Homo sapiens: one gene and its partners. The protein of the gene in region 3 purifies or fractionates together with the protein of the main gene of each other region. This does not show direct contact. Each region holds a gene or a part of one and is shown on either strand. Other genes may lie near its edges.

Region 1 (7,766 bases), on a different chromosome or scaffold from region 3:
ATCAATCTGGTTTCTTACAGGCCCTTGAATGTTGCCTGTTTAGCAAAACGCTTTTGCAAATCACTTCCAAGTATACAGGTAATTTGCATCCTCAGTGTCTTTTTTTTTTTTTTTTTTTACATTTTCCTACATATTTTCACAGGCTAAAATTTTACGGCTATACTCCTTGTGACAGCAGATCCACTGAGGGGGAAGGAAGCAAATGGTAGGCACTGTGGCAGGCTTGCAATAAATGTACTGATTAGAGGCGGGAATGAAATGAAGTACAGTGTGGTGGTGAAGACACTGAAGTCAGACTGCTTGCTATGTGAGCTTAAGCAAGTTATTTAAGTCACTGAGCCTCAGTTTCCCCATCTGTAATGTGATTATAATAACTGCACTTACTTCATAGACTGCTATGATAGACTACTGGGACATTTAACTGAGAAAATGCATGTAAGTGCTCATCCTAATACAAAATAAATGGTTTGTTGCTATTATTTAATTTTTAAACAGCCCTGCCGGTTAGGCATTACCATCCTCATTTCACAGATGAGGCAGTTGTTGCACAGGTGGTACCAGGATTAGAATCCAGAACTGCCCAACCCTGGGGCTCAAACTCTTCCTACCACCTGCCAGCTGAAAAGATCCCCCATGTTTTGTGACTTTCAAAGAATCAAAAGCCCCCTAGGTTTGACTATCTTAGGACAATGAAATCCTGTGTCTTCTAATAGTGATTATGAGATGCAGGGAAGCTCTATCACAAGAGGAGAAGGTGAAATAAACTGGTTACTAAGCTATAATAAGGGCCTCCCCCAGGGCTCCGAAAACAGACTGGAAGACAGGGAGATGGTTGTGGGGGAGGGGAATCAGCAAAAAGGCACAGATTGAGATTCTGGATAGAGCGGCATGTCAAGGAATCAGAAGAGCTGACTGACAGCATAACTGTACGAGCAGTCATTTTTACCACTCCAGGCAATAAAAACATGGAGTGTCTTTGTCATTAGGTTTGAGACTCCTAGCATTTGATAAGCAACTCTTGGAGATACATAATATCTAACAGATTGGAAGCAAAACTGACATTATTCTGCTGTCATTCAAAATAAACATGTACATCACATCCCACAGTCAGGAAAACAAACCTAAAACTTTGTGACCTGAGATTAAAAAAAACAAAAAAACAAACAAAACCCACAAAAAACCGCACACGCTGCTTAGATCTGGTCCCCAAAATAAATCATACCTTGAACATTTCCTATAAATTATCAATGTCTAGAGACAAGGCTTTTGTTAATGAGATAATAAAGTGAGAAAAGCTTTTGGTAGATAAGCTGGTAGAAAAGTTGATGGTAGATAAACACACTAATGTAAACTTGGTACTCTTGGTCATATTGGTTTTTTCCCACTTAAAACACCTGTTATGTTTTTTATTTGGCAAGGCAGTCATCGGGAGCCCTGACTCCTTTACACCCTTTTGTGAGTAAACTTCTTTGCAGTTTTACATATCCTTGTATGAGTTTCCTTTCATGGGAACACATTAAAAGCTTTGATAAGTCCTGCAATAAATAAATTTTAATTTAGCATTTCAAAACTTATCTGGAGGCCCTACAGTCTATGAGGGCATGAACTTTGATTTCACACCTCTGTCACTTGGAAGCTAAATGACCTTAGGCAAGTCGCTTCAATGCTGAGGCTCAGTTTTACGATCTGTGGAAGAGCGCTGGTTGCTGGATTATACACTACAGTACCTAAGAGCCGCAGCACATTGTAAGTCCCCAACAAACATGACTAAACACTTAAACAGAAGTGATCCCTTCTCAACATTCCAACCCAATCTTCATTTATATGGAGCAACATCCTACAGAACACCCCTGTTTGGGAAACAGAATTAAAGCTTTCAAGTCAAGCTATCTCCAGGTATACAAGGAAAAAACCAAGATGATCCTGATTTAGGTCCTTGTGCCTCTACTAAGGTGTAAAATTTTAGGCAAATTTCAAGTCTTTCTGAGCATAAGATTCCTTATTTGTAAAATAAGATACTACAGAGTTGAGATTCAATTATAAAGCATTATTACATAAATGTGTACTGTTTTGTGGACACTTCTTAGATGAGGTACGGGAATAAATGGTAGAATTAAACCATAGAGCGAGGGGAGGAATACAGAGGTTTTTCTAGGAGGCTACAAGCTGCTTTACAGTGCACAATGACCTAGGAATACTTCCTCCAGCAGGAGAAACTTTATACAAATAAAAATACGTAAACACACACAAACCCGTCTTCACAAAACACCTTCTAGTACAAATAACCTAGTAAAAGTCTTTTTATAGACACTAGGTGCAAATTTCTGACAACAGCTTAACATAAGCCACCTGGGCCTTGGATAAATTGAACAGTAAATGTACACTAATGCTAACAGAAAACTTACTACACAGTCACGTCTCAACTATTCATACCAATGAAGAGAAGTAACAACATAGAAAATAAACTGTTTATTACACAAACTCTATAACTGTTTTTAAGCAATGTTTCCCATAAAAATTATTAAATGAAATTTGCATTTTCCAAGCATACAATTCAATTTGCGTTTTCCAAACATACAATTCAATAGGACTAGACTCCATTACCAGTAAGCCACAAGCTGACCAAGCAATGAGGGTGTTACACAACCACACTATTCTATTTCATAGGAGCAGTCGTAGTGTAGCTATCTGGCTATTTTCTACAATAAACCATCCATTACCGTCGCATTTCTCCTCGTAAATGGCTCTCTCAGTAAGATAAATGAGTGTCAACGTCTTTCGGTCTCAGTTTCCTGCACTGTAAAATGGTAATAATAACTACTAAGTTGTCTTACTGTGAAGTCTGATGATAATGAATATAAAGGACTTGGAAATATGCAGGGCGCTTCGCCGATATTCACAATATGCTACCTGTCGTTATTTTCCACACAACAACTTTTACTTGTTAACTCTCTGCAAGTTTAGATTGCATCTGGATTCTCCAAACTTTGAGGCCCTCATAATCGATTAACAAATTACTCCTATGTGGTATCCCCATTTGTAACCGTCCTCTCGGCGTCCCTTTACTCAACTTCAAATCTTTTCCAGTTAAAGCGTAAGCCCCAGAGCCTTCCCGACAGCGCCCCGGCATCCTGCACGGCCCTGGCTAGGACGTCCTTCCTCCCAGCCCACAGGGGCCACGCTTCAAACTCGGGGCGTAGCCCCCCGCGCTGGCCTCGCCCAGCGTCTCGGCCACGCATCCCCCGGATCCCCGGCTGTGGCGGCAGCGCTCGCTCTGCCTCGCAAAGCCCCGCCGCGAACAGCCGAGTAACTTTCCGAGTCCCGCTCTAGCCTCAGGTTCCCGGACCACAGCACTGGCGCGCACCGGCCCCCCTGCGGCCTGGGGGAGCGGCCCGAAGCTCCTGGCTCCAGCGCACTGACCTGCAAGTGATCTGCTTGGTGCTCATGGTGGCTGGGCTGAGGGACCGTCGTCGTGCCGCCGCCTCTCGCAGCCGCTGCCGCCTCGGCCTTGGCCCTGGCCCGGCCCATCCCGCGTAGCCGCGTCACGCCGGCGCACGCCGGCGCACGCCGCCCCTCCGGTGTGGCACCTTTGTAGCGCCGGCGGGTAACCTAGCCGTCGTCACAATTGGTTCCGCACCGGGGATCGGGCCGGCTGTCCCGGCATCCCTGCTCTCGGTGTCCCGCACTTCCAAGCCTCCGGGGCGGAGCCTGGCTGGCATCTTAGTCCTGCCAGTCTTATCCCGATGCCTACTGTTAGTGCCTGCGATTCTGCCCCGATCGCCAAGAGTATTCCTTAGGGATCTCCCGCCTCCTTCGAGGCACTTCACCACTCCTGGGGAAACTCCAGCCTCTCCTCTTAATCCCGGATGCCCCTATCCATTCATACTCGCACTCACTGGGCACCCTTCTCAGGCCCTGCCTCAACTGTTCCCGCCGGACCTCGCCTCCCACTTAAGGAAATTCCTTAGCTCTCTCCCAACTGCTCTTTCCCCAAATCTCTACTTCCACAAGTTTTAGTCTTCATTTTCTTTCCTGCCAGTCTTGTGCTGCTCGTCTTCCATTTCCTATGGTGGAAACCCCAAAAGTTATTTTTGACACTTCCCTCTAGCTCTCTATACCCTGCAGATTCTGCTCCCACACCTCTGTCCAATGCGTCCTCTTCTGCCCCCTTTCCACCGTCCCTTCTACCTAGCACCATGCGATACCTTTTTTTTTAATTATTATTATTTTATTTTTTATTTTTTTGAGACGGAGTTTCTCTCTTGTTGCCCAGGCTGGAGTGCAGTGGGGCGATCTCGGCTCACTGCAACCTCCGCCTCCCGGGTTCAAGCGATTCTCCTGCCTCTCAGCCTTCCACGTAGCTGGAATTACAGGCGTGCACGCCTGGCCAGCCATGCGATAGCCTTTTAACTGGTCTTCTGGCTTCCGTTCCTGGTAAAAATCTATTTTTAAAACATAAATCGGATCATGTCATTCACCTTTTAATCTTACAATGGTTTCTCATTGCTTAAAAACTCGAGATACATAACATGCACAATATAAGTGCACCAAACACATTCTATGAATTTTTGCACATGCATACACTCATGAAACTACCACCCAGATCAAAATAAAGAATTTTTTGTTTTGTTTTGAGGCAGGGTCTTGCTCTGTCGCCCAGGCTGGAGTGCAGTGGCGCCATCATAGTTCAAGCAGTCCTCTGCCTTAACCTCCCCAGCAGCTGGGAATACAGGTGCGCGACACCATGCTCGACTAAACTTCAAAATGCTGGAGTAAGGAGAGGTTGAGCCGGAAGGATCCTTTGAGCATAGTTCACTGCAGTCGAGGCTGCAGGGGGTGGGTGGGGGCTGGATATTATCGACACCCCAGAAGGGCTTCCTTATGGTCCTTCCCAGGCAATACTTTACAAAGGTCATTGCTTGGGTTCATCTCTATCACTATAAATTAGTTTAACTGTTCTTGACTTTCATATAAATAATAATTCAGTACCTACGCTTTTGTCTGCCTTCTTTTGACCAACATTTTATCTGTGAGATCTTTCCATGTTATGTATGTATAGCTGTATGTTCTTTTTTTACTTTGCTATAAAAATATTGAGTCTTCCAATGAATGAGCATGGTATATACTTCCAATTATTTAGAACTTTTGAAATTTTTCTCAGGAATTTGGAAGTATACTGGAAATTTTGTTTTCAGTGTCTTGAATATTGCATTTTAACTCATAACACATTTGATCCATGCAATTCATGCTCATAAAAATTACACGTCTTTTTTTTTTTTTTTTTTGAGACGGAGTCTTGCTCTGTCACCCAGGCTGGAGTGCAGTGGCATGCTCTTGGCTCACTGCAACCTCCACCTCCCGTGTTCAAGCGATTCTCCTGTCTCAGCCTCCGGAGTAGCTGGGATTATACAGGCGCACGCTGCCACGCCCAGCTGATTTTTTGTGTTTTAGTAGCGACGGGGTTTCACCCTGTTGCCCAGGCTGGTCTCGAACTTCTGAGCTCAGGCAATCCACCCGCCTCGGCCTCCCAAAGTGCTGGGATTACGGGCGAGAGCCACCGCGCCCAGCCCATGCCACTTATTTTTAAAATTCAGCTTATCTCATTCTTTATGGAATACATTCACGATCTGAACGTTATTATGTTCAAATATTTTAAAAGCGTAAAGTGAAAAGTCTCAGTCTCCTGTCAATTTAGTTCCCGCCTCTTCAAAACAAAAAGCAGAAACATTTTTTAAAACCTCAAAACCTGGCCACTGTTATCAAATTTGTATACATCTTTCCAGAATTTCTTTAAATATACACAAGTAAATACATATATATTATTTTCTCCTTTTTGTAGAAAAGATAACATAACGTACTGTTCTGCACAGCGTACATAATCAGTGGAGATTTTTCCATATCAGTACATAGAGCCTCTTCCTCCTTTCGTAGAACTGTATAGTATTCCGTTGTACGACTATGCCATAAGTTATTTCATCAGCCTTGTACTGCTGGTGCCCTTTAGGGTGTCTGTGCAAATAAAACACTGGATCGGGCACATGTTCTCAGGATCTCCTGAGGTCTGTGTCATGGGCAATATATATATATATTTTTATATTTCATATATATTTCATATATTTCATATATATTTATGAAAAAATAATACAACACTGGATCAACGACAGCCAGTGTGCACTTCCACAAGCTGTACCCAACAGCTTGGTTCCTGCCACTGTCATGGTACTTAGCACTTAGACTTTTCCCGAAGGATGCAAGCAGTCTCCACTTGGGGTTCTTCCGGCGTTATCTGGCGCTGGGCACTAAACACCAAGTCCTGCCCCACCCGGGACGTGGAACTCACTTTCCTCACCCCCAGGGAACCCGCGCTGGCAGAGAAGGCAGGGCCACTCGCTCCTGCCCGTAGCAGGGGCGCGTAAAACTGCGTCTGCTTGCTAACCACCAGCTCCCGTTCTCGCCCCTTAGGAAAAGCAACTTTGCTACCAAACACTCGGGAGAAAAAGGCTATCAGATAGAAGCGGGTGAAGAAGCTGAGAAAACAGAAGAGAAGGGTGGCTGCCAGCTCGGGACTCAAAATGGCCATCTGGGCGTAGAGACACAGAGACCCTTTGCGCAGACGTGCGCCGAGGGTCTTGCAAAGCTTTCGTTTTCTTTGTGTGCCGACCTGCCCCTAGAAGCGGTTTTCGATGCTATTTTAAATGATATTCCTAAAATTTCCGAATTGCTTGTTGCTTATATATAGAAATACACTGGATCTTTGTATACTGACTTGGGATTCAGCTCCATGCTAAATTTTGAATTAATTCTAATGGTTTATTTGTAGTTAGTTATCGATTTTCTATACACAATCACGCCATCAGCAAATAATGACAGTTTTGCTTCCTTTTCATCTTTGTATCTTTTATTTCTTTTCCTTGCCTTATTGCATGCACTGTCTACAGCCTTCAGAACAATGTTAAAGAGAAGTAGTAATAGTGTACATCTTATTTTGTTCCTGGATTCAATAAAAATATTTAATATTTTACTTTAAAATTATTTAATATTTTAATTAAAATGTTAGCCCTAGATTTTTTTAGGCTATCCATTGCCAAATTAAGAAAGTTTCTTTCTAGTTTTATTAGCATTTTTACCATGAACACATCTTGACTTTTATCACTTTTTTTTTTGCATGTATTGAGAAACCTATATTGTTTTTCCCTTTTATACTGGTAATGTATTGAATTATACTGATTGATTTTTAATGTTAACCCTACCCAATTGCTCAGGATAAACCCCACATGGCCATGATATATTTTCTATAAATCATCTATTTGTTAAAATTGTGTTTAGAATTTTTGCATCCTTGTGTATGAGAGATATTAGTCTGTAGTGTTCCTTTCTTATAATGTCCATGCCAGGTGCTGGTATCTGGGATATGCTGGTCTCATAAAATGAGTTTGGAAGTCTTTCTTTTCTATCCTCTGGAAAAGTCTGTGTAATATGGGTATTAATTTTTCCCTTAAACATCTGGAAGAATTTACCATGGAAGCCATCTCAGCCTGCAGTTTACTGTGCAGGAAGATTTTTTTTTTTTTTTTTTTTTTGGAGACCGGGTCTCACTTTGTCACCCAGGCTGGAGTGCCGTGGTGTGATCTTGGCTCACTGCAACCTCCACCTCCTGGTTTCAGCCCCTCAAGTAGCTGGGGCTACAGGTGTGCGCCAGGCATGCTCCACCACTCCTGGCCAATTTTTGTATTTTTTGTAGACAGGAGATCTCACTATGTTGCCCA
Region 2 (7,796 bases), on a different chromosome or scaffold from region 3:
CTGGCCTCCCTTTCACAAATGTCTAATGAGTCAAATGCTTTGAGGCTCTATGATGGAAGGTTGTAGAATTTACGAAGGTAATTTAAAATGGCGATTCAGGCTTGTAATTTGAAACCTATAAAATCTAATTTTTCTAAATCAGTGAAGTCCTGCATTACTTTATCACTTACCTGGCGACATAAATGTTGCTGCTTGACTGCTGCCAAATCCAAATGCAGGTGCTGCTTGATTTACTCCATCCTTTACATCAGAGAGCTGAAAAAAAAAAGTGTGCAAATAATAAAGTGCTTGATGAATAGTGCTCCAGTATCTTTTCTATACACTTTATGGACAAATTCAAGTTTTTAAAATGTGCATTAAAGGCTGGGTGTGGTGGCTCACACCTGTAATCCTAGCACTTTGGGAGGCTGAGGAGGGTGAAGGGCTTGAGCCTATGAGTCTGGGACCAGCCTCAGCAACACAGCGAGACCCCCATCTCTATAAAAAATTAGCCAGTGGTCCCAGCTATTTGGGAGCCTGAGGTGGGAGGATCACTTGAGCCTGGGAAAGCCTGGATGACAAAGTAAGACTCTGACTCAAAAAAAGAAAAGAGAAGAAAAAAGTGCATTAAAAAAGGCAAAGTTAAATGCTTAACATGGAAAATGCCCATAATATGATGTTGAAAAGGATAAGACATAATACTGTATAAACAGTATAATCACAACTAGTAATATGAATATGCATAAAAAATGTACATTAGTAAGTTAACAGTGATTATCTCTGGCTGATAAATTACAGGTGATTTAAATTTTATTTATGCTTTTTTATACTTTCTAAATTTCTACAATGAGCAGATATTATAATCAGAAAAATATTTTTAAATTTTTTTCAGTGTCTATAAGGGTAGATCTGCATTTATCAAGAAATCTAGATATTAGGTAAAAAGGACCTTTATAGAATACCCAGTCTAATACTCGAAGTAGATCCACTATTATATAATTAAAAGCTTATGACTAAAAATCCATTAAACATTTCCCATTCCCTGAAAGTACTTTATGTTCTTGCTGTTCTGTGCTCTAGAAATGTCTTTCATCTCTGCTTACTGAAATCTTAATCCTACTTTCAAGGAACTTTGTATTTGCTCCTTCCTTTCAAGAAGACTTTCTTAATCATCCAAAGCAAACATAAGCGATTTCTTTCATTTGGAAGCCTCAAAAGCATTCTTTGGCCGGTGTGGTGGCTCACGCCTGTAATCCCAGCACTTTGGGAGGCTGAGGCGGGCGGATCATGAGGTCAGAAGATCGAGACCATCCTGGCTAACATGGTGAAATCCCGTCTCTACTAAAAATACAAAAAAGCTGGGCGTGGTGGTGGGTGCCTGTAGTCCCAGCTATTCGGGAGACTGAGGCAGGAGAATGGCGTGAACCCGGGAGGCGGAGCTTGCAGTGAGCTGAGATGGCACCACTGCACTCCAGCCTGGGTGACAGAGTGAGACTCTGCCTCAAAAAAAAAAAAAAAAAAAAAAAAAGAATGCTTTTGTTTTTGAGACTGCAACCTCTCCTGGGTTCAAGTGATTCTCCTGCCTCAGCCTCCTGAGTAGTTAGGATTACAGGCGTGTGCCACCATGCCTGGCTAATTTTTGTATTTTTAGTAGAGACCGGGTTTCACCATGTTGGTCAGGCTGGTCTTAAACTCCTGACCTTGTGATCCGCCTGCCTCAGCCTCCCGAAGTGCTGGGATTACAGGCGTGAGCCACTGCACCCAGCCCTCAAAAGCATTCTTGCTCCTGGTCCCTGGCAACCACTCTGTCTGCTTTCTATCACTACAAATGAGACTTGTCTTTTCCAGAGTTTCATACAAATGGAATCACATGGTCTACACTATTTTTTTTTTTTTGGTCTGGTTTCTCTCCCTCAGTGTAATATTCATTAACAGGCAGATGATAAACAAATTATATCCATACAATGGGTTACCATTCAGTATAAAGAAGGCATGAACTCCTGATACATGTTAAGTCAGCTATGGGTGGGTTGTCCCACATTCTAACCTATGGAAGGGGCCCTGGGCAGTTAGCAAGGAGCAGGGACCTTCCAGCCCTGAGGGAAGTTCCACAGTTCTTTGGACTCAGTTATCCTTTCTCCATCAGCTCTCATCCATGGTGATGGTGGGCCACCTCTCACACAAGGACAGACTACTTCCAAGAGGTCCCACTAAATTCAAATAGCATTACAAGAACTAAAAGATGAAAGAAATTAGCTTGCACAAGAGTCTAGTTATTCAGGAAGCACATATTTAAGAAAGGGGTGGGGTGTTGGGACTGTCAACCATTCACTAAGTGTAGGGAGACATTACTCTCATATCCTTATACAGAGTAGAAACCATCTGAGAAATTGGAAATATTAAAATTATAAATGTGAATATCTTATTTTAAAATAAAATTCTTAAGAACTTTTTAATGGGTGTAGAAACATCATAACTTTATTTACAAAGATAATGAACTTGCCACAGTCGGGACCATAGATCTTTGGAGACAGGTGGGTATATATCTTCCAAAGGCATTTCTGTTTAAGACAAGGAACATACTGTGTTCTTCAGTCGCAAAACGATACATTACATTCTAAATGTGCATTCATATAACTGTTCAAAGTAATTTCTTTTTACATACAGATAACCTTAAATACTTAAACTTATGTAATAGTTTGCCATTTTCAAAACTAGCACTACCAAAGTTAAAAACTTTACCCTAAAAAGCTTTTAAAAAGCATAACTATTTCTGCTTTTCTGACCAAGGAACACAGAGAAAACTATTTCAAGACCCTGACTCTTAAGTGATGCTATTTTGGGAATGTGTGTATCATAATTCTTGATAGAAAATTTTTGTTTTGCTTTCCAAATCTAAAGTAAAATATCCTCTGCAAAAAAGCAATAGGTAAGACACTTCCCTCAAGAAAACTCTCCCATACTCACCAAAGCTACTTTAGTTGATATATTTAGACTTTTCAGTTCATTTACCCTGTTCCTCCATTGATTTATTAAACGTTGGACAGAATTTAGCTGAAAACGGAAGACAGAAAAATAACAGTTCAATATTGTATGTTTAAGTTAGTTTCTTCAATAAAAACTTCACATACTTCTTTGCCAAAATCACAAAAGGTTTATGTAACAGTTTTATGGCCCATGACTTGCAAAATTTGCATTGACTTGGCCTATTTGTCAAAGATATGCCAGCTCCAGTTCCCTCTCCCGTTCAACTCCTTGTATCATCTGGTTAGTATCACAAGTACCTGGCAGCACGTAGTTAGTTATATTTGGATGGGCGGTGAATACATGTACTAGTTGAAATGCATGATCATGACTGTAGAAACAGAAAAATACAGCATTTAAACTGCTTCCTTCAGGTACTCAACTTATTCTAGTCAAGATTTTTAATTTTTTTTGATATTTGATATATGAGGATGTTAATCTGTATTACAGACTGTATCTTATTTAACTTTGTTTTTCTAGCATTCATCACTGGATTGGTACCTAACAGATGTTCAATAAATATCTGTCAAATGATAAAAGGGTTTCATTTCTGGGATTGACTGTTGGGTAATTTATAATAAAAATAGTAATATTCCTAATTATTAAAGTAAAAATATATTATCATTTTAATAACCAACCAAATTCAATGAAAATAATATAGAAAAGAAAAATAGCCTACTCCTGAAAAAAGATCATAGACCTCATCGGTTTTGCCAAAACACAAGCCACGATAAAGAAAGCAGTAATTAAGAGCTCATCTGTTATTGCAGTAGATTAATAGGAAACAAACTTACATAACTCTGTAAGTTATTGCTGGTTAAGAAGTTATGGTATTCAAGCCTCAATTCCTCTGGTGAAATGTCTGTAAAACCTGAAGTGAGGAATCAATCGGAATCTTTAAAATAAATGCCAATAATTTTGATAGTAAAGCTAGAGGTGCTAAACAAGAAAATATCTAATGTTGATTAGAAAATTTTCATAACCATGAGGAAGAAACTTAAAGCCTACACTCTACTTAATGTTTAATAAAGTGTAAAATTACAGTAAAATATAGTTGGTTATTCTGATCTTTAAATGGGGAAGATTTTCTAAAGATAAGTGGCGTAGAATGAACAACAAACACAGGAGAAAGATTTGACTACATTTATATTCAAACTTTTATTTTAAAAATTCTGCCAGAAACTATACTAAGCAAAATTACAAGGCAAATGGTACACTAGGAAAATTGCAATTTTAACATATATGACAAGAGAAGAACTAATGCCCTAATGTACAAATAGCTCTTACAAATAAATGAGAAAAGTAAATGAATTTGGGCAAAGATAATGAACAGGCAATTCACACACAAAAAAAATCAAATAGTAAATAAATGAAATAAAGTTAAATGCAACTTAAAATAGAGATAAAATGCTTTACTTATCAGACTGGCAGAAATTTTAAAAGCTGGTATTTACTGTTGTTCCAAATGTGGTGAAATGTATCATTTCCTAAATTACCGTTAAGGGAATTAAAATGGTACAAGTTTTCTGGGAGGGATAATTGTTAATAAGCATCACAAGCCTGAAAAACATTCATATCCTGTGACTTATAATACAATTTATAGGATTTAACCTTGGGAAATAGTTATATATGTAAACAAAGGTTGCTATGTATAAGGGTGTTCATTCTAATATTTTTAGTACCAGAGACAAACTGAAAGCAAAAATTAGAATATAAAACTAGGGCCGGGCACGGTGGCTCACGCCTGTAGTTGCAGCACTTTGGGAGGCTGAGGCGGATGGATCACGAGGTCAGGAAATTGAGACCATCCTGGCTAACATGGTGAAACCCCCTCTCTACTAAAAATACAAAAAATTAGCCGGGTGTGGTGGCATGAGCCTGTAATCCCAGCTACTCGGGAGGCTGAGGCAGGAGAATTGCTTGAACTTGGGAGGCAGAGGTTGCAGTGAGCCAAGACTGCGCCACTGCACTCCAGCCTGGGCAACAAAGCGAGACTCCGTCTCAAAACAAAAACAAAAACAAAAGCAAAAACAAAAAAAACTGGATTACAGCCGGGCGCGGTGGCTCACGCCTGTAGTCCCAGCACTTTGGGAGACCAAGGCCGGTGGATCACCTGAGGCCAGAAGTTCAAGACCAGCCGGGCCAACACGGCGAAACCCTGTTTCTACTAAAAATACCAAAATTAGCTCGGCGTGGTGGCATATGCCTATAATCCGAGCTACTCGGGAGACTGAGACTGGAGAATCGCTTGAACCCGGAAGGCCAGCCGAGGCTGTAGTGAGCTGAGATGGCGCCACTGCACTCCAGCCTGGGCAACAAAGAGCGAAACTCTGTCTCAAAAAAACAAAACAAAACAAAAAACAAAGAAAAACTAGATTATGATCCTAATCATATATATGTATACGTATATATGTATAGGTGAGAGGTGACAGCTTGCTGGCAGCCCTCACATTCCTCACTCGCTCTGGGTACCTCCTCTACCTGGGCTCCCACTTTGGTGGCACTTGAGGAGACCTTCAGCCCACCGCTGCACTGTGGGAGCCCCTTTCTGGGCTGGCCAAGGCCTGAGCTGGCTCCCTCAGCTTGCAGGGAGGTGTGGAGGGAGAGGCGCGAGTGGCAACCAGAGCTACCCAGGGCCCTTGCTGGCCAGCTGGAGTTCCGAGTGGGCGTGGGCTTGGTGGGCCCCACACTCAGAGCTGCCGGCTGGCCCTGCCGGGCAATGAGAAGCTTAGCACCCGGGCCAGCGGCTGCGGAGGGTGTGCTGGGTCCTCAGCAGTGCCGGCCCACCGGCGCTGCGCTGGATTTCTTGCCGGGTCTTAGCTGCCTCCCTGCGGGGCAGGGCTCGGGACCTGCAGCCCGCCATGCCTGAGCCTCCCCCTCACCTCCGTGCGCTCCTGAGCAGCCTGAGCCTCCACGAGGAGCGCCACCCCCTGCTCCACCGGCACCCAGTCCCATCGACCACCCAAGGGCTGAGGAGTGTGGGCACACACCGCGGGACTGGCGGGTAGCTCCACCTGTGGCCCTGGTGTGGAATCCACTGGGTGAGGCCAGCTGGGCTCCTGAGTCTGGTGGGGACTTGGAGAACCTTTATGTCTAGCTAGGGGATTGTAAATACACCAATCAGCACTCTGTGTCTAGCTCAAGGTTTGTAAACACACCAATCAGCACCCTGTGTGTAGGTCAGGGTTTGTAAATACACCAATCAACACTGTATCTAGCTACTCTGGTTGGGACTTGGAGAACCTTTGTGTCCACACTCTGTATCTAGCTAATCTAGTGGGGACTTGGAGAACCTTTGTGTCTAGCTCAGGGATTGTAAACGCACCAATCAGCACCCTGTCAAAACAGACCACTTGGCTCTCTGTAAAATGAACCAATCAGCACGATGTGGGTGGGGCCAGATAAGAGAATAAAAGCAGGCTGCCCCAGCCAGCAGTGGCAACCCGCTCAGCTCCTCTTCCACACTGTGGAAGCTTCGTTCTTTTGCTGTTTGCAATAAATCTTGCTGTTGCTCACTCTTTGGGTCCACATTGCCTTTATGAGCTGTAACACTCACCGCGAAGGTCTTCAGCCTCACTCCTGAAGCCAGCGAGACCACGAACCCACTGGGAGGAACAAACAACTCCAGACGGGCCGCCTTAAGAGCCGTAACACTCACCGCGAAGGTCCACAGCTTCACTCCTGAGCCAGCGAGACCACGGACCCCACCAGAAGGAATAAACTCCGAACACATCTGAACATCAGAAGGAACAAACTCCGGACACGATGTCTTTAAGAACTGTAACACTCACCGCGAGGGTCCGTGGCTTCATTCTTGAAGTCAGTGAGACCAAGAACCCACCAATTCCGGACACATAGGTATACATATATACACACATAGAACAACTTATACATCCCTGTACAAGTGGACCCTTGCAGTTCTGTTCAAAGGTCAACTGTACACACAGCTGTACAGGGTCCACTTGTACAGGGGCCACTTGTACAGGGATTTTCTTCCGCCTCTGCCACTCCTGAGACAGCAAGACCACACCCACCTATCCCTCTGCTACTCAACATAAAGACAATAAGGATGAAGACTTTTATGATGATCCACTTCCACTATGTGAATGGTCAATATATTTTCTTATCCTTATGATTTTCTTTTTCTTTTTTTTTTTTTTTTTGAGATGAAGTCTTGCTCTGTTGCCCAGGCTGGAGTGCAGTGGCATCATCTCGGCTTACTGCAACCTCGGCCTCCTGGGTTCAGGCAATTCTCCTGCCTCAGCCTCCACAGTAGTTGGGATTACAGGCATGCACCACCAAGCCCGGCTAATTTTTTTTGTATTTTTAGTAGAGATGGGGTTTCACCACATTGGCCAGGTTGGTCTCGAACTCCTGACCTTGTGATCCACCCGCCTCAGCCTCCCAAAGTGCCGAGATTACAGGCGTGAGCCACCGCGCCTGATCCGTTATGATTTTCTTAACATTTTCTTTTCTCTTACAGTACGTTATTAGTAGTTAAGCTTTTGGGGAGTCAAAGCTTATACGTGGATTTTTGACTGCACAGAGGATCAGTGCCGCTAAACTTTATGTTGTTCAAGGGTCAATTGTATACATAAACAAGAAATATGTTTGTGTGTGTATATGTTTCGAAAGAAATATACTAAAATGTAGTAGTTACCTCTGTGATATCAGGTTATTTTTATTTTATTTATATATTTCTGTACTTTCCAAGTTTTCTAAAGCAAAAGCTGTAACTTGTTTTTTATTTTTGAGACACAGTCTCATTCCTGTCACCCAGGCTGGAGTGCAGT
Region 3 (7,796 bases):
ACTTTTGTTATATGCAATTCACCTCAATAAAAAACTGAGGGCAAAAGACATAAATATATAATTCTCAAAAAAAAAAACATGTAACATGACCCTTTAACATATGAAGATGTTCAGTTTCACTCATCATAAGAGAAATGCAAATTAAGACTATGCCAACATATAATTTCCCACCCATCAGGTTGGCAAAAGGTCAAAGGCTTAAAACTACAGTATTTGTCAGGGCTGTGCATAAACAGGCACTTTGATACACTGCCAGTAGACAGACAAAACAGTGCAACCCTTATAGAAGAACATAGTAATGACTGTGGCAGACAGACCCTGTAGTGGTGCTCCCACGCTCCCTACCTCCTGGTCCCCATGTCTTGTTTCTACCCAACAGAATATGGCAAAGGTGATGAGATGTCCCTCCTGTGATTGTCATTATTATTATTATTATTGAGACAGGGTCTTGCTCTGTTGCCCAGGCTGGAATGCAGTAATCTTATCACTGCAACTTTGAATTCCTGGGCTCAAATGATCCCCTTGCCAGGCATCCACCTCCAGAGTAGCCAGGACTATACAAGTGCATGCCACCTCACCTAATATTCAAATTTTTAGTAGAGATGAGGTCTCACTACATTGCCCAAGTTGGTCTTGAATTCCTGGCCTCAAGTGATTCTCCCATCTCAGTCTCTCAAAGTACTGGGATTATAGACATGAGCCTTGACACCCAGCTCTGTGACTGTTCAACACTGTAAGACGGTTGACAGCTTGCTTGATCTAGACACCCTCCTTGCTGGCTTGATGAAGTGGTCCTTTTGGGAAAGACAAGGAACTGTGGGTTGCCTCTAGGAGATGAGGCAGGCTTCCAACTGACAAACAGAGAGCAGCTAAGACCCTCAGTCCTACAGCCACAGTGAAAACAATTCTGCCTCACTACTACAACTGCAATTAAACAAAATGAAATATGAGTGACAGATTCTTCCCCAGTCAAGTCTCCAGGTGAAAACACAGCCCGGCAGACACGTGGATTGCTGCCTTGTAAGCTCCTACACAGAAGAACCAGTTAAGCCAAGCCCAGACTCCTGACCCATAGCAACTGAAATCAATGTGTTATGCAGCAATCCCACTTCTAAGAATTTAAATTAAAGATACTCTCCTGCACACATACCCGATGAAAGGAACTGAGATTTTTCTGCTAGCAAATGTGAGCTTCAAGGTCTTGATGCCAAACACTATATATCCTTGACCATTTGAGATGTGACTGAATATCACTTATATCTGAGCTCTGAATGTACATTAATATGTTGGGTCAGTTAAGAGCCCAGGTACTGAGGGTCTTCAAGTTTTTGGTTTTTTTTTTTTTTTTTTCTTTGAGATAGCCTTGCTCTACTGGCCAGGCTGGAGTTCAGTGGCATGATCTTGACTCACTGCAACCTCTGCCTCCCAGGTTCAAACAATTCTCCTGCCTCAGACTCCTGAGTAGCTAGAATTACAGGTGTGCACCACCATGCCCAGCTAATTTTTGTATTTTTAGTAGAGACGGGGTTTCGCCATGTTAGCCAGGCTGATCTCGAACTCTTGACCTCAAGTGATCCATCCGGCTCAGCCTAAGTGCTGGGATTACAGGCGTGAGCCACCACACCTGGACAGGTCTTCAAGTTTTAAGAATTTTTTAAAAATTTGAGCTCCATTTTTCTTCAGAATGATCCATGCCCAAATACAGAACTATGTTGACAGTGGGTTACAGAGTTTGCACGGCAAAGTTCAAGTTGTTACACTGTGTTTTTAAAAAATCTTATCTACCCCGTCTCTACTAAAAATATAAAAAAAAAAATTAGCCAGGCGTCGTGGCGGGCGTCTGTAGTCCTAGCTACTCGGGAGGCTGAGGCAGCAGAATGGCGTGAACCCGGGAGGCGGAGGTTGCAGTGAGCCGAGATCGTGCCACTGCACTCCAGCCTGGGCGACTGAGCAAGACTCCGTCTCAAAAAAAAAAAAAAAATCTTATCTATATGTACTGTTAAATCAGAGACCATGAGATCTACTTATCAGAACCAGGAAGATAAATTCTTCAGAGCTATTTCAACTGATACTTCTTTTCCTCAAAACTTGGTGGACTGTCGGGGAAAGGGCCCCACAATTTTTTGTCTTTGATATTAGCTCCAATTCTCATAAGTATATACAGGCCCTATAATTGCAGCAGAAAAAGATGCATGATGGAAAATCTCCATAACCCATGCACGGAGACCTGAAAAATCATCCTTACTGGGTATAATTTATTATGGTGCAATTAAGTGCCAACTGATATTTCTCACCATGGACTGGTCAGGAACTGCTGCAAAGAAAAATAAACAGATCCTTCTGCATTATTTATATTCTAAAATGTGGTAAGGGGAAATCAGGAGAAATTTCTTCTGAAATTATATTATGGATTTTTTAAAAGATTATCAAATAAAGTTATTTTTAAATAAAAATTAAAGTTATACCTCCAATAATATAAAAATACATATGCATAAAGTTATTAATTTTAGCATTATGTATAATTGCTAGATACTGCCAACTACCTAAATAACCTAACGTAGGAGAAAGTTGGTTGAATAAACTATGATACATCCAAATAACAGAGTAATCTTCAGCTGGGAAAAAAAAAAATGACTGAAGATCTCTGTGAAATGACAGCATAGCTATTTCCAGGATACACTAAGTGAAAAAAGCAAGGTACAGAATACATGTATGCTATATTATCTTTTGTGGATGACCAAAGAGGGTAATTATAAAGAAAAACAAAAAGGCCAGGCACAGTGGTTTATGCCTGTAATCCCAATATTTTGGGAGGCAGAGGCAGGAGGATCACTTGAGGCCGGGAGTTCAAGACCAGCCTGTTCAACATAGCAAGACCCCTGCCTCTACAAAAAATACTAAAAAATTAGCTGGGAGGCTGAGGTGGGAGGAGTACTTGAGCCCAGGAGTTTAAGGCTACAGTGAGCTACGATAACACCACTGCACTACAGCCTGGATGACAGAGCAACACTTTGTGTCAAAAAAAAGAGAGAGAGAGAGAAAAAAAAAAAAACCACATCCACTTACTTAAAAAAAAAAAAAAAAAAAAACCCCAAGAATAAAAGGATGAATAAACAAGATGCCAATGATACTGATTATCCAAATGGGGTATAGAATAAAGGGAGGGAATAAAACACCAGGAGGCTGAAGATTAAAGGGAGAGCTAATTTGGGTAAACTGCAAAGAATAAATTCACTATACAACCTTAGTCTAAGGGAAAAATAACTATTAGCAAATCCCGAACTCCTTTTAGTAGGTTTCTTTTTCACAGAGGTATGGATGAAGCAATTCTGAAACCATTCTGTGTGTACTGTAGACAACTGGGCGAATAAGTAAACGTATTGATGTTGTTGGAAGTGAGGTAAACAGATACAGAAAAGAGGGAAAACCAAGGATAACCCTATAGAGTTGGGACTGGAATTAAGAGTTATCAGTATGAACCACAGTAAATTATGAAACTTGAATATAGACTGTAAATTACCTAACAGTATTCAGGGTTAAATTTTCTCAATGGTTTCAGACACACACATACATAATGCAAGGGAAAGAGGGAGGGAGGGAAGACGGAAGAGGAAACAATAAAAGCAAATGTGGCAAAATGTTAAAAACTGGTGAATTCAAGTAAAAAGTATAAGTGAATTCAGGAGGTCTCCATATAATTCATGCAATTTATCTGTAATTTTAAAGTTATTTCAAAATAGTTAAAATAGCCAGGCATAGTGGTAGGTGTCTGTAATCCCAGCTACTCGGGAGGCTGAGGAACAAGAATCACTTGAGCCCAGGAGGCGGAGGTTGCAGTAAGCAGCGCCACTGCACCCCAGCCTGGGCAACAGAGTGAAAAATAAAAATAATAAATAAATAAATAATAATCAATAAAATAAAATGTCCTAACAAAAAATAAAGAGAGAGAAGAGACACATATGTATTGAAATTTCTGAAAGCAAATACTCAAACGTAAAGTTGTCAATCAATACGGAGGCAAAGGAGAGGAGGAAAAGGAGCCTCTCTAAAAGATCTTTAAATAAGACTGAATTCCATCCAATAGCTTTCGTTAAATATATACCCCTAAATCAGGGGTTCCTAACCTGGGACAGAGGTTAGGTGGATTAAATTCTATCCATCAAGAGGTCTGTGGATAGAATTCACTGAGTCTCTGAAGGGAATGGGAAAAAATTACATTTTAATTTCAGAAACTGATTTTTTCCCCTCAATTACGGATGCAGGCAACAAACAATAGTTTTAGCAATACCTATGACTTTATCACGAAGAGAAATCACACATATTTTCACTTCACATTAGCTGAAGTTCTCAAAACAGTGTATATCCCATTCAGCATTTTCATAATACATTTCATAATTATACTTGCAGCTAAATTGTATTTAAAGTGATATATGATTTAAAAAAACATGCATCACAAATTTACTTTTTAAATATTTTGATAACTGTATTTCAAAATCAGTTTTCTTTGTAATCATATGCACTTAAATTTATTCACTTAAAATTGTTATTCTGGGCCAGGTGAGGTAGCTCACACCTGTAATCCCAGCACTTTGGGAGGAAGACACAGGCGGATCACTTGAGGTCAGGAGTTCGAGACCAGCCTGGCCAACATGGTGAGCCCATGTCTCTACCAAAAACACAAAAATTAGCCAGGCGTGGTGGTGTAAGCCTGCAGTCCCAGCTACTTCGGAGTCTGAGGCATGAGAATCACTTGAACCCAGGAGGCAGAGGTCGCAGTGAACCAAGACCACACCACTGCACTCCAGCCTGGTCAAGAGAGTGAGACTGTCTCAAAAAAATAAATAAATAAATAAATAAATAAATAAAATAAAAAAAAAATTATTCTGAAAAGCAGACCATGGGCTTCAGACTGAACAATGGTTCCAAGGCATAAAAAAGTTAAGAATCTCTGCTTGCTCAGAGGTACAGATCCCTCACTTGTTTACAACTATGTCATAATGAGGGGAATTAAAAGTTTAGTTTTTTTGCTTTGCCATAAAGCAAATTATAAAAAGATACACATCATTGATAATTTTCGACCTAACCTTATTATTTAATTTCTAAGTAATTTCCCCTAAGCACCAGCATAAAAATTATTCAAAATAACAACTGTAATCTCACACAGAGCATCCAATAACAAATGTTAACACTTACACATGTAAAACATACAGGCACACAGCAACTATAACAATGAAGCGAGACTGTGAAACATTTTATCAAGAAACTCAAGTGTTCATACACTTTAAAAACTTGGTTAAAAATGAGGTACTATTTACCATCTCTCTTTTGGAAAATTTTTTAAAATTTCTTTAATGATTGGCTGGTAACAGGCATCCCTTTCTGCTTTCCCAGTTTCACTCCAGTCTCTCACAAACTGTTTCAGCGTGGATTTTAACTTATCCATGTCAAATGTAGATGCTGGCATAATCTTTCCATTCCCCTGTTTAAAAAACAGACATCAATTAGCTTCTGAGAGAGTAATCCACTTATATTATGGTTAAATAGACATGCTACTAAGGGGCTATATAGGTGGTTTAGTGGATAAATCACTAGCCTCTCACCTCAACTGGGGTTCAAGTGCAGCTTGAGATCCTAAATGAAAAGAGTTTGGTGGTCTCACTGCTACCCTCAAAAGATTAAGGTCCATTAATCATAAAACCACCATATAATTAAGCAGTCTTTACTCAGGAGAGGACCAAACTGAGCTGCTATGGAGACCGAACATCCTCTCTAAGAGAGGGAAGAAAGTCCCTCCAGGTCATTGATGGGGCAGCATGGAGAGGCTCACACTGGAGTGGCCCAACTGTATCCATCCTGTGGATACAAAAAGAGGACTTCAGTTTCTATGTACTGCCAGTCCCTTGAGATTTATAAGTGAAAACAATTTCTTACAATAAAAGATGAACAGCAATAGATACAAGACACTGAAAAAATATGAGTTAAGCAAGGGAAATTAATTTCTAGCTAGTAAAGTTGCTTTTAAAAATTTAAGTCACTAACCCTGTATTCCAAAACAGAACATTATGTCAAAATGCATCAAAATCTCAACAGTTATATTAGTACTTAAAAAAGGAAAACAAGTGAACAGATCCAGTCTCTGGCTATTAAGCCTAATCAAATGACTGAACATTTAAGTTAAAACTTTCTGAGTAGAGCAAATAGCCTGTGCCAGATTATAAAAATGAAATCCAGAAAATAAAAGACCTCAAAATACAGAGGTTGACCCTAAAATAAACAGAAATAGAACAAACTTTCACATACATCTTCTCCATATTCTTTATTTTCAAACATATGTATGCAATCATTCACAATGGTCAGTAGTATTTCTTGATTATGATCAATGCATTTCCGGATCTTGTCCAAGTGAAGAAGAAACTGAGGAAGTAGTTTCTGTTGGTTAGCTGGAAGTGATCGAAACTGTCTTTCTGTTCGGTTCACCCGCTCATGCATACTGGTGCTAAAACATAAAAGGTGTTTTTTAAATTCACAAAAGAATTCTCACCAGAGGCCAATCTTACTTTAAGGTTGTCTTTCTGTACAATTATTTCCTTATTATGCTGGATACTGTCCTATCATTTACAATCTCTTGGCTTTAAAAAGGCATTAACTTATAAAGTTGTAAATGTTTTTACTTTATTACAAGTCCTTCTCTAAGCAACCAAAATACAAATGGTTTATCACTAGTAAAAGTAAACATATGCACCAATTAGAAGAGGAAAAAGAAGATTAATGTACAATTAATTTATTTTTGTGTTTTAAACTTAAAATTTTCAGCAAAACCAGCTTTAGATTTTTCCATCTTTAAGTAGCAAAATAAATACTGCTATGAAATTATAATACACACAAAATATGTCCTGAAATTAACTAAAAGCTAACCAGGTTGATTTTTTTTAAATATCATAGAAGATCTTATATACTACAAATTACTAAGCAAATAAAAAATTAAAATTCTATAGTGTTTTACTTAACAATACCCACAATTTGCATTCCAAAAACGAACCCAAAGGTCACTTTGGGGACTACTTATTCATAAAACCAGAAAATAGAACATAATTTTTACTTATATTTACTTATTATTATTATTTTTGAGAGGGATTTTCGCTCTTGTCGCCCAGGCTGGAATGCAGTGGCACAGTCTCGGCTCACTGCAACCTCTGTCTCCCAGGTTCAAGCCATCCTCCCACCTCAGCCTCCCAAGTAACTGGGACTACAGTCATGTGCCACCACACTTGGCTAATATTTTTGTATTTTTTTGTAGAGATGGGTTTCATCATGTTGCCCAGGCTGGTCTCAAACTCCGGGGCTCAAGCAATCTGCCTGCCCTGGTCGCCCAAAGTACTGGGATTACAGACATGAGCCACCATGCCTGGCCATAAGAACATCATTTTTTAAAGTTAAATATATACTCACAGTATATCATTTTTATATTGACAAGATGGCCAAAATTTAAAATCCTGACTATATCAAATTTTGGTGATTGGTGAAAATATGGTGTAATTAGGACATTTACACACTAATGGTAAGTGCATACATCAGCGCAACCACTTTGGAAAATTAAATTTAGAGCATTACCTAGTACAACTTAGCATGGTACTTGCCTTATGACCTAGCAATTATATCCTAGAAACTCTTGCAAATGGGCCCCATGAAACATGAACAATCTTTGTCATAGCACTGTTAGAGATAAGAAACAGGTGGGCGCAGTGGCTCATCCCTGTAATCCCTTGGCACTTTGGGAGGCCAATGTGGGCGGATCA
Region 4 (7,625 bases), about 53 Mb from region 3:
TATTTCCACTGGATTTTTTCCACCAGTCCCCTTACAGCCCTCATTGTTTTAGGAATCTCTCTCAGGTTTTTTCTGACCTAAACCAGCAGGAAGTCGTCCTGGGCTGTAAGCACCATCACTTGCTTTTTTTTTTTTTCTGATTTCACAAGTGTGGTGTTTTCCCAAGGCTCCCTTCCCAAGCTCAGTGCAAACCTCTCACTCCCAAGTTTCTTTGAGGCCACTTGCCCCCAAGCACTTCACAATAGACCCTCGAGGGCTTGTGTCCATTTGGCCTTTTACAAGTGTAATGCCAATTTCATTGATTTTTGTTTCTTTTGGCCTGATTTGTATCTCTGGAATGCATTTATTCTTGAAATATTTGTGTGATTTTACAAAAAGCTTTTGTAATCAGTTATTTAAGGCTCCATTTGATGATTTCCTTTACCCAACCAGTCCTCATCCCTCCTCTAAAAAATGATTAAGTAAAATGCTGCAGGACAGCCAGTAGACATTTTTAAAGTACTTGGTGCCTGAAACATCAGGCTTCTCATTTCATTTTAGCTCAGGTTGGTGCTTTCACATTGTAATCAATGAACTGTCAGGAGGGAACAAACTGTAAGAAGGATTGCTTGGTGTTTTAGGGTAGATCACTTTAGCTATTAGGAAGAGGATGGGGTAGTGTACAGTATATATTTTTAAAATGTGAATTGGTTTCTGAATAAGAATCTGGGCCATTTTTGTTCACCATTTTTGTTCGTACTGTGCTAACCTCTGCCCTTCTGATTCTAGCTAGTATTGGCCTGGGTGGTCCAGTCTTCTCACCTCTCAGCCACTCTGACTCAACTCTAGAGAATTTCTTCTCTGTTCTTTTTTCTTCTGGAGACAGGTCTCTGTCACCCACACTGAGTGCAATGGCGGGAACATGGCTCACTGCAGCCTTGACTTCCCTAGCTCAAGCAATCCTCCCACCTCAGCCTCCACAGTAGCTGAGAGCACAAGTGTATGCCACCATGCCCATCTAATTTTATTATTTTTTGTAGAGACAGATCTCACCACATTGCCCAGGTTGGTCTTGAATTCCTGGGCCCAAGTGAACCTCTCATTTTGGCCCCCCAGAGTGCTGGGATTACAGGGGTGAGCCACCACACCCAGCCTTCTCTGTGTTCTTGAATCCACCTAGGCATCTGGATTTCAAAGACCAGAAATCTCTTTTCTCTACCAAATTTTGAGGATATTTATAGTTTCCAGCTTTCAGTTTTTCCAATGAAGGTAATTCCAGCTACCACTGCCAAAAAAACTAAGCCCATTTTCATACTCTTAACGTAAATAGACAAGAACTTATAATAGGTGAAAGACCTTCCCGAGAAAGGACAATTGACAAACTTCCACCAGCATGTATATATATCTGTATAACTCATTATTATTTTTGCCAAACTAGAGAAAACCTCAGTGCAGGGCACTGCTATGTAACTCTGGTGTGAGCAACACCTCTCTTGGAGTCCCTTGCTGGGACTCTGGGGACTCTTCCAACAATTTTTCTTTTTAAAATATTTTTATTACAAGAAGTCCAGGGAATTTTTAAAAACTCAGAAAATGAAAATTGTTCACATTGCTCATACTCCAGAGAGAATTCTTCCTACCTCAAACTGAGATCTCACGAGGTGGTGGACAATGGAAGGGTCAGAAAGTCTGGGGTCCCAGTTAGAGCCGTCTCTGGACAATTGTGACTCATTCTATTTTTATTGAGATATAATTCACATAAAATTCACTCTTTTTATTTTTTTGAAACAGGGTCTCCCTCTGTCATCCAAGCTGGTGAGCAGTGGCACAATGATGGCTCACTACAGCCTCAGCCTCCTGGGTTTAAGCGATCTCCTGCCTCAGCCTTCTGAGTAGCTGGGAGCACAGGTGCATGCCACCATGCCTGGCTAATTTTTGGATTTTTTTTTTTTTTGGTAGAGGCAGGTCTCATCATGTTGTCCAGGTTGGTCTCAAACTCCTGGGCTCAAGCCATCCTCCTACCTTGGCCTCCCAAACTGCTGGGATTACAAGCATGAGCCACCATACCTGGCCTAGAATTCACCCTTTTAAAGTGTAAATATAGGCCAGGCGTGGTCACTCACACCTGTAATCCCAGCACTTTGGGAGGCCGAGGCGGGTGGATCACCTGAGGTCAGGAGTTCGAGACCAGCCTGGCCAACATGGTGAAACCCTGTCTCTACTAAAAATACAAAAATTAGCCGGGAGTGGTGGTGGACGCCTGTAGTCCCAGCTACTTGGTAGGTTGAGGCAGGAGAATCACTTGAACCCAGGAGGTGGAGGTTGCAGTGATCCAAGATCACGCCACTGCACTCCTGCCTGGGCAACACGGCGAGATTCTGTCTCGAAAAGATAAAGTGTATATATAATTCAATGGTTTGTAGTATATTCACCAAGTTGTGTAGCCATCACCATTATCTAATTCTAGACCTAGTTTTTTCTTTTTTCGAAATGGAGTCTCTCTCTGTCACCCAGGCTACAGTGCAGTGGCACCATCTCGGCTCACTGCAGCCTCTGCCTCCAGAGTTCAAGGGATCCTCCTGCATCAGCCTGTGGGGACTATAGGTGCATGGCACTTTGCCTGGCTAATTTTTGTATTTTTTGTAGAGACAGGGTTTTGCCATGTTGCCCAGGCTTGTCTGAAACTCCTGACCTCAGGTGATCTGCCCACCTTGGCCTTCCAAAGTGCTGGGATTACGGCACCCAGCCAACCAATTTCATCACTCCCAAAAAAGAAACGCCATACCCATTAGCAGTCACTCCCCATTCCCCTCCCCCAGCCCCTGGCAACTAGTCATAAAGTTTCTCTGGCTCTATAGATTTGTCTCTTCTGGATATTTCACATAAGTGGAATTGTCCAACATGTGGCCATTCATGACTGGCTTCTCTCAGCATAATGCTTTCAAGATTGATGTTGCAGCGTATCATCAGCACTTTATTTTTATGGCCCCATAACATTCCATTATATAGATGTGGTGTTTCCTCCTGCCAAACAGGGCTGGTTGGGATTCCAAAGAAGCACTATGGCCGGGCGCAGTGGCTCATGCCTGTAATCCCAACGCTTTGGGAGGTCGAGGTGGGTGGATCAACTGAGGTCAGGAGTTCGAGACCAGCCTGACCAACATGGTGAAACCCCGCCTCTGCTAAAAATACAAAATAGCTGGGCGTGGTGGCTGGCGCGTGTAGTCCCAGCTACACGGGGAGCTGAGGCAGGAGAATCGCTTGAACCCGGGAGGCGGAGGTTGCAGTGAGCCGAGATCGAGCCACTGTACTCCAGCCTGGGGGACAGAGCAAGACTCTGTCTCAAAAAAGCAGCATTAAACCCAAAACATTTATTAGGGAAGCTTACAGAGTGGGCTGCAGCAATTCTCGCGACAGACAGAGAGAAGCGGTGTTTCACCTAGGTACATCCCCAGCGAGGGGTCAGGGTATGAAGTTTATATGAGGGTTTATGGAATTTGGCTAAAAGCAGGGGTCAGTTTCAGCGTTTTGGGCAATAACCTAGATATCCTTAGTGCCTAGGGATATGCAAGGCCCGTGTTTGGTTGCAAGTCTGCAGGAAAAAACTTGCAGCTGGCTGGGTCACAGGGCGGTCAAGGCACTCTGATACTTGGTCAGTGCACAGAAAGCGGGGGAACTCGGGAACCGCGCACATAGTACTATATTTTATTTATCCATTCACCAATGGATGGACGTTTGGGTTGCTTTCACTTTTTGGCTATTATGAATAACACTGCTGTGAACATTCATGGACAAGTTTTTATATATACATAGGTTTCATTTCTTTGGCGTATTTTATATATATATATATATTTACCTAGGAGAATTGCTGGGTCAAATGGTAATTGTTTAACCTTTTGAGGAACTGCCAGACTGTCTTCCACAGCAGGTGCTTCATTTTACAGTCCCATGAGCAGTGTATGAGGGTTCCAGTTTCTGCACAGTCTCAAGGCACAGACAAATTTTCAGCAGCCCCGGGGATTGGGAGCGGTGGTTACCTCTGCGGAACGTGCCCCGACAGCCAAGCCCTGCGCGCAGGCGCACTGGTGGGAGGGCGGGAACGCGGGAGCGTCGCCGGAGGTGGGGCGTGCAGGCGTTAGGGGCGGGGCTGTGCTGCGCGCGCGTCCCGGAAGCAGAAGCCTGTGTGGCCTTCCCGGCGGCTGATTCGAGGGCTTGTTTGGTCAGAAGGGGGGCGTCAGAGAAGCTGCCCCTTAGCCAACCATGCCGTCTGAGGGTCGCTGCTGGGAGACCTTGAAGGCCCTACGCAGTTCCGACAAAGGTCGCCTTTGCTACTACCGCGACTGGCTGCTGCGGCGCGAGGTGAGCGGTGGCCCCGGAGGACGTAGGCCTTTCCGGCCCCTCGCGACCGAAACCTTCTCCCTAGCCGTTGGCACGTTCTGCTCCCGGGAACCCGTGCAGTCTAACAACCTGCATTTATTTCTTGACTTCTGTGTGTACATCCCTCTGTCCTGGGGTTTCTGTCCTCTTCAGCCTATTTTAGCGTTTCGGGGAGCTCCCCTGACTTCACAGGTGCCCCGCGCTCTGAAGGCTTCATTGCTACCCTCCGCCAGTTGGGCGCCTTCTCCGTTCTGCTGTTGTCAAAGCAATCTCGGCCCCAGGTTCAGTTAACTTACTGTATGTCTCATGTGCTGGGAGCTCTAGAGTTTGCGACGAACGATTGACACGACCTAATCCATTGCTACTAGTGAAATGACCAAATTTTTAGATTGATTTGGCAGACCTGGAAAGTGAATGGGGGCGTGGTCACCGTACCTAGCATTTGCAAAGCTCTGCGCGAGAAGTGGAGGGATGTGGAGAGTTAAGGCCGAGCTCCCATTCCCGAGTCGCTGCTAGTTAGCTACAGATAAGGCGTTGTCCTGCATCCTCAGACTTCTTGGGAAACAATCCTAAAGTATTTCCCTGTCTTTTATGTTGTTGACAGTTTTGAAAAATACAGACCTTACATTCTGTAGGTTGACTGCCAGCATATGTGCTTTCAAACCACCAGACCAAGGTTAAGCATTCTTGGCAGGAATACCACAGAAATGATGCCATGGCTTTCTCAGTAAGTCACATGAGGAGGCACACAGATGTCAACCCATCCCAACACTGGTGATGCTAATCTTGATCACCTGGTTACGTTATTATCTGCCTGGTCTCTCCGTTTAAAATTCGTCATTTTTCCCTTAGTAATTGTTGGGAAGTAATAATACCAGTATCCTTTTTTCTGGGCAAACCTTAATCCTCCATGGCTTTAGCATTCATTGATGTTTTCCACATGAATCGATACCTCTATGACGTTGCCAGATCCTGTTTCTTTATATCCGCTATTCCTTCTGCATTTGTTAGTTGGCATTCTACTGTAAGGAGGTGCTTTCTATTTTATTCAGTGAGTTGTAATCCATTACTTTTATTATTTATTTATTTTATTTTAAATGTCCCAGATTTTGTAAGCTTGTATCAAAATAATCACATGCAAGGCTAGGCGTGGTGGCTCAGGCCCGTAATCCCAGCACGTTGGGAGGCCGAGGGGGACGGATCACTTGAGGTCAAGAGTTCGCGACCAGCCTGGCCAACATGGTGAAACCGCATCTCTACTAAAAATACAAAATTAGCCGAGCATGGTGGTGCATGCCTGTAATCCCAGCTACTCGGGAGACTGAGGCATGAGAATTGCTTGAACCCTGGAAGCAGAGGTTGCAGTGAGCCGAGATTGTGCTGCTGCACTCAAGCCTGGGTGACAGAGTGAGACTGTGTCTCAAAAAAAAAAATGTAGCCTTGTAAATATGTACAACAATTATGTATTCATAAGAATTAAAAAGAAAAATGTCCCAGATTTGGCTACTGGGCACCTCATTAAGTTGGTTCCTGTGTTCCTGTGACATATTTCCATCTTTCATTGACATTTCTTTACTTTTTGACACAAAAAGATGTCCCAGGTGCAAGTTTCCCTGTCTTAATCCTGGAATCAGCTATTTCTCCAAAGAGGCTGACTCTTTTGAAGTGGAGGATGGTGCTGTATTGGCAAACCAAGATCTGGGAGTTGAGTGTGTTGAGATTCTTGATTGGGTACCATTGCTTCTAGGCCTTCTCAGTAGACAGAGCTAGGAAATAATACATATCTAAATATGTACACACATCACCACACACACATTTATGTACTGTCTATTTGTGTGTACATATATATTATAAAACCATGACTTCATACTGATAAATGCCACTTCCAACCCAGCACTTCACTTTTCTTTCTAATCTTACCCCATCCATGTTTGTAAATATGTTACCTAGCAGTGAGAAGTTTGGCTCCTGTTATTCTCAATATGTTTACTTATTTGCTCAATCAGTTTACTTTATCTCATTGTAGCAATCTCTGAACTACTCTAGTTTTTTCATTTATTTATTATATCATAGGTAATCAGTACTTATTTTCTCATACAAAGATGTTCCACGCTCATCTTATATTTTTCTGCCTCCAGTTCTGGAACTTACCTTTTCTGCAGAGACCCCTGGTTTCCTTTGATTTAAAATTATATTTACAAACCAAGATCTGGTACTAGATATGCTCATTATTACTACTAAGGGTGTATACATACATATCCATATCTATTTCTATTTTTTAAAATATTATTAGGCTGGTTGTGGTGACTCATGCCCATAATCCCAACACTTTGCGAGGCTGAGGCAGGACGAGTGCTTGAGGCCAGTTCAAGCTGGGAGCCAGGCTTGGTGTCTCACACCTGCAATCCCAGCACTTTGGTAAGTCAAGGTGGGCAGATCACTTGAGCCCAGAAGTTCGACACCAGCCTGGGCAATGTGGAGAAACCTCACCTCTACAAAAAATACAAAAAAATTAACCAGGTGTGGTGGTGCGTGCCTGTAGTCCCTGCTCCTTGAGAGGCTGAGGTGGGAGTATTACCTGAGCATGAAAAGTTGAGGCTGCAGTGAGCCGTGATCACGCCACTGCACTCCAGCCTGGGGAACAGAATGAGAGCCTGTCTCTCAAAAAAAAAAAAAAAAAAATAGTCGGGCGTGGTGGCTCACGCCTGTAATCCCAACACTTTGGGAGGCTGAGGTGGGTGGATCACCTGAGGTCAGGAGTTTGAGACCAGCCTGGCCAACATGGTGAAACCCTGTCTCTAGTAATAATACAAAAATTAGCCGGGTGTGGTGGTCGACACCTGTAATCCCAGCTGCTCGGGAGGCTGAAGCAGGAGAATTGCTTGAACCCGGGAGGTGGAGGTTGCAGTGAGCTGAGATCGTGCCACTGCACTCCAGCCTGGGTGACAGAGCAAGACTCCATCTCAAAAAAAAGGCTGGGCACACAGTGGCTCACGCCTGTAATCCCAGCACTTTGGGAGGCTGAGGCGGGTGGATCGCCTGAGGTCAGGAGTTCGAGACCAGCCTGACTAACATGGAGAAAACCCCGTATCTACTAAAAGTACAAAATTAGCCAGGCATGGTGGTGCATGCCTGTAATCCCAGCTACTCAGGAGGCTGAGGCAGGAGAATCACTTGAACCTGGGAGGTGGAGGTTGTGGTGAGCCAAGATCGTGCCATTGCACTCCAGCCTGGGCAACAAGAGCGAAACTCCATCTCAAAAAAAAAAA

The links.
Region 1: the proteins of CARNMT1 (region 3) and MKRN2 purify together in Homo sapiens (affinity purification with mass spectrometry; 4 studies listed by BioGRID and IntAct, with this or other methods). This does not show direct contact.
Region 2: the proteins of CARNMT1 (region 3) and NUP42 purify together in Homo sapiens (affinity purification with mass spectrometry; 4 studies listed by BioGRID and IntAct, with this or other methods). This does not show direct contact.
Region 4: the proteins of CARNMT1 (region 3) and GLE1 purify together in Homo sapiens (affinity purification with mass spectrometry; 4 studies listed by BioGRID and IntAct, with this or other methods). This does not show direct contact.

Annotation. Positions count from the first base shown.
Region 1 is NC_000003.12:12,552,831-12,560,596, reverse strand, and holds the start of MKRN2 (E3 ubiquitin-protein ligase makorin-2), read right to left. Parts: upstream 3,511-7,766; 5' UTR 3,447-3,510; coding exon 3,421-3,446; intron 1-3,420. UniProt on the Homo sapiens protein: E3 ubiquitin ligase catalyzing the covalent attachment of ubiquitin moieties onto substrate proteins.
Region 2 is NC_000007.14:23,191,917-23,199,712, reverse strand, and holds part of NUP42 (nucleoporin NUP42), read right to left. Parts: intron 3,875-7,796; coding exon 3,798-3,874; intron 3,034-3,797; coding exon 2,947-3,033; intron 2,541-2,946; coding exon of another isoform or gene 2,466-2,540; intron 256-2,465; coding exon 171-255; intron 1-170.
Region 3 is NC_000009.12:75,010,953-75,018,748, forward strand, and holds part of CARNMT1 (carnosine N-methyltransferase), read right to left. Parts: intron 6,497-7,796; coding exon 6,301-6,496; intron 5,480-6,300; coding exon 5,316-5,479; intron 1-5,315.
Region 4 is NC_000009.12:128,500,567-128,508,191, forward strand, and holds the start of GLE1 (mRNA export factor GLE1), read left to right. Parts: upstream 1-4,152; 5' UTR 4,153-4,239; coding exon 4,240-4,338; exon of another isoform or gene 4,339-5,407; intron 5,408-6,649; exon of another isoform or gene 6,650-6,666; coding exon of another isoform or gene 6,667-6,774; intron 6,775-7,625. UniProt on the Homo sapiens protein: Required for the export of mRNAs containing poly(A) tails from the nucleus into the cytoplasm. May be involved in the terminal step of the mRNA transport through the nuclear pore complex (NPC).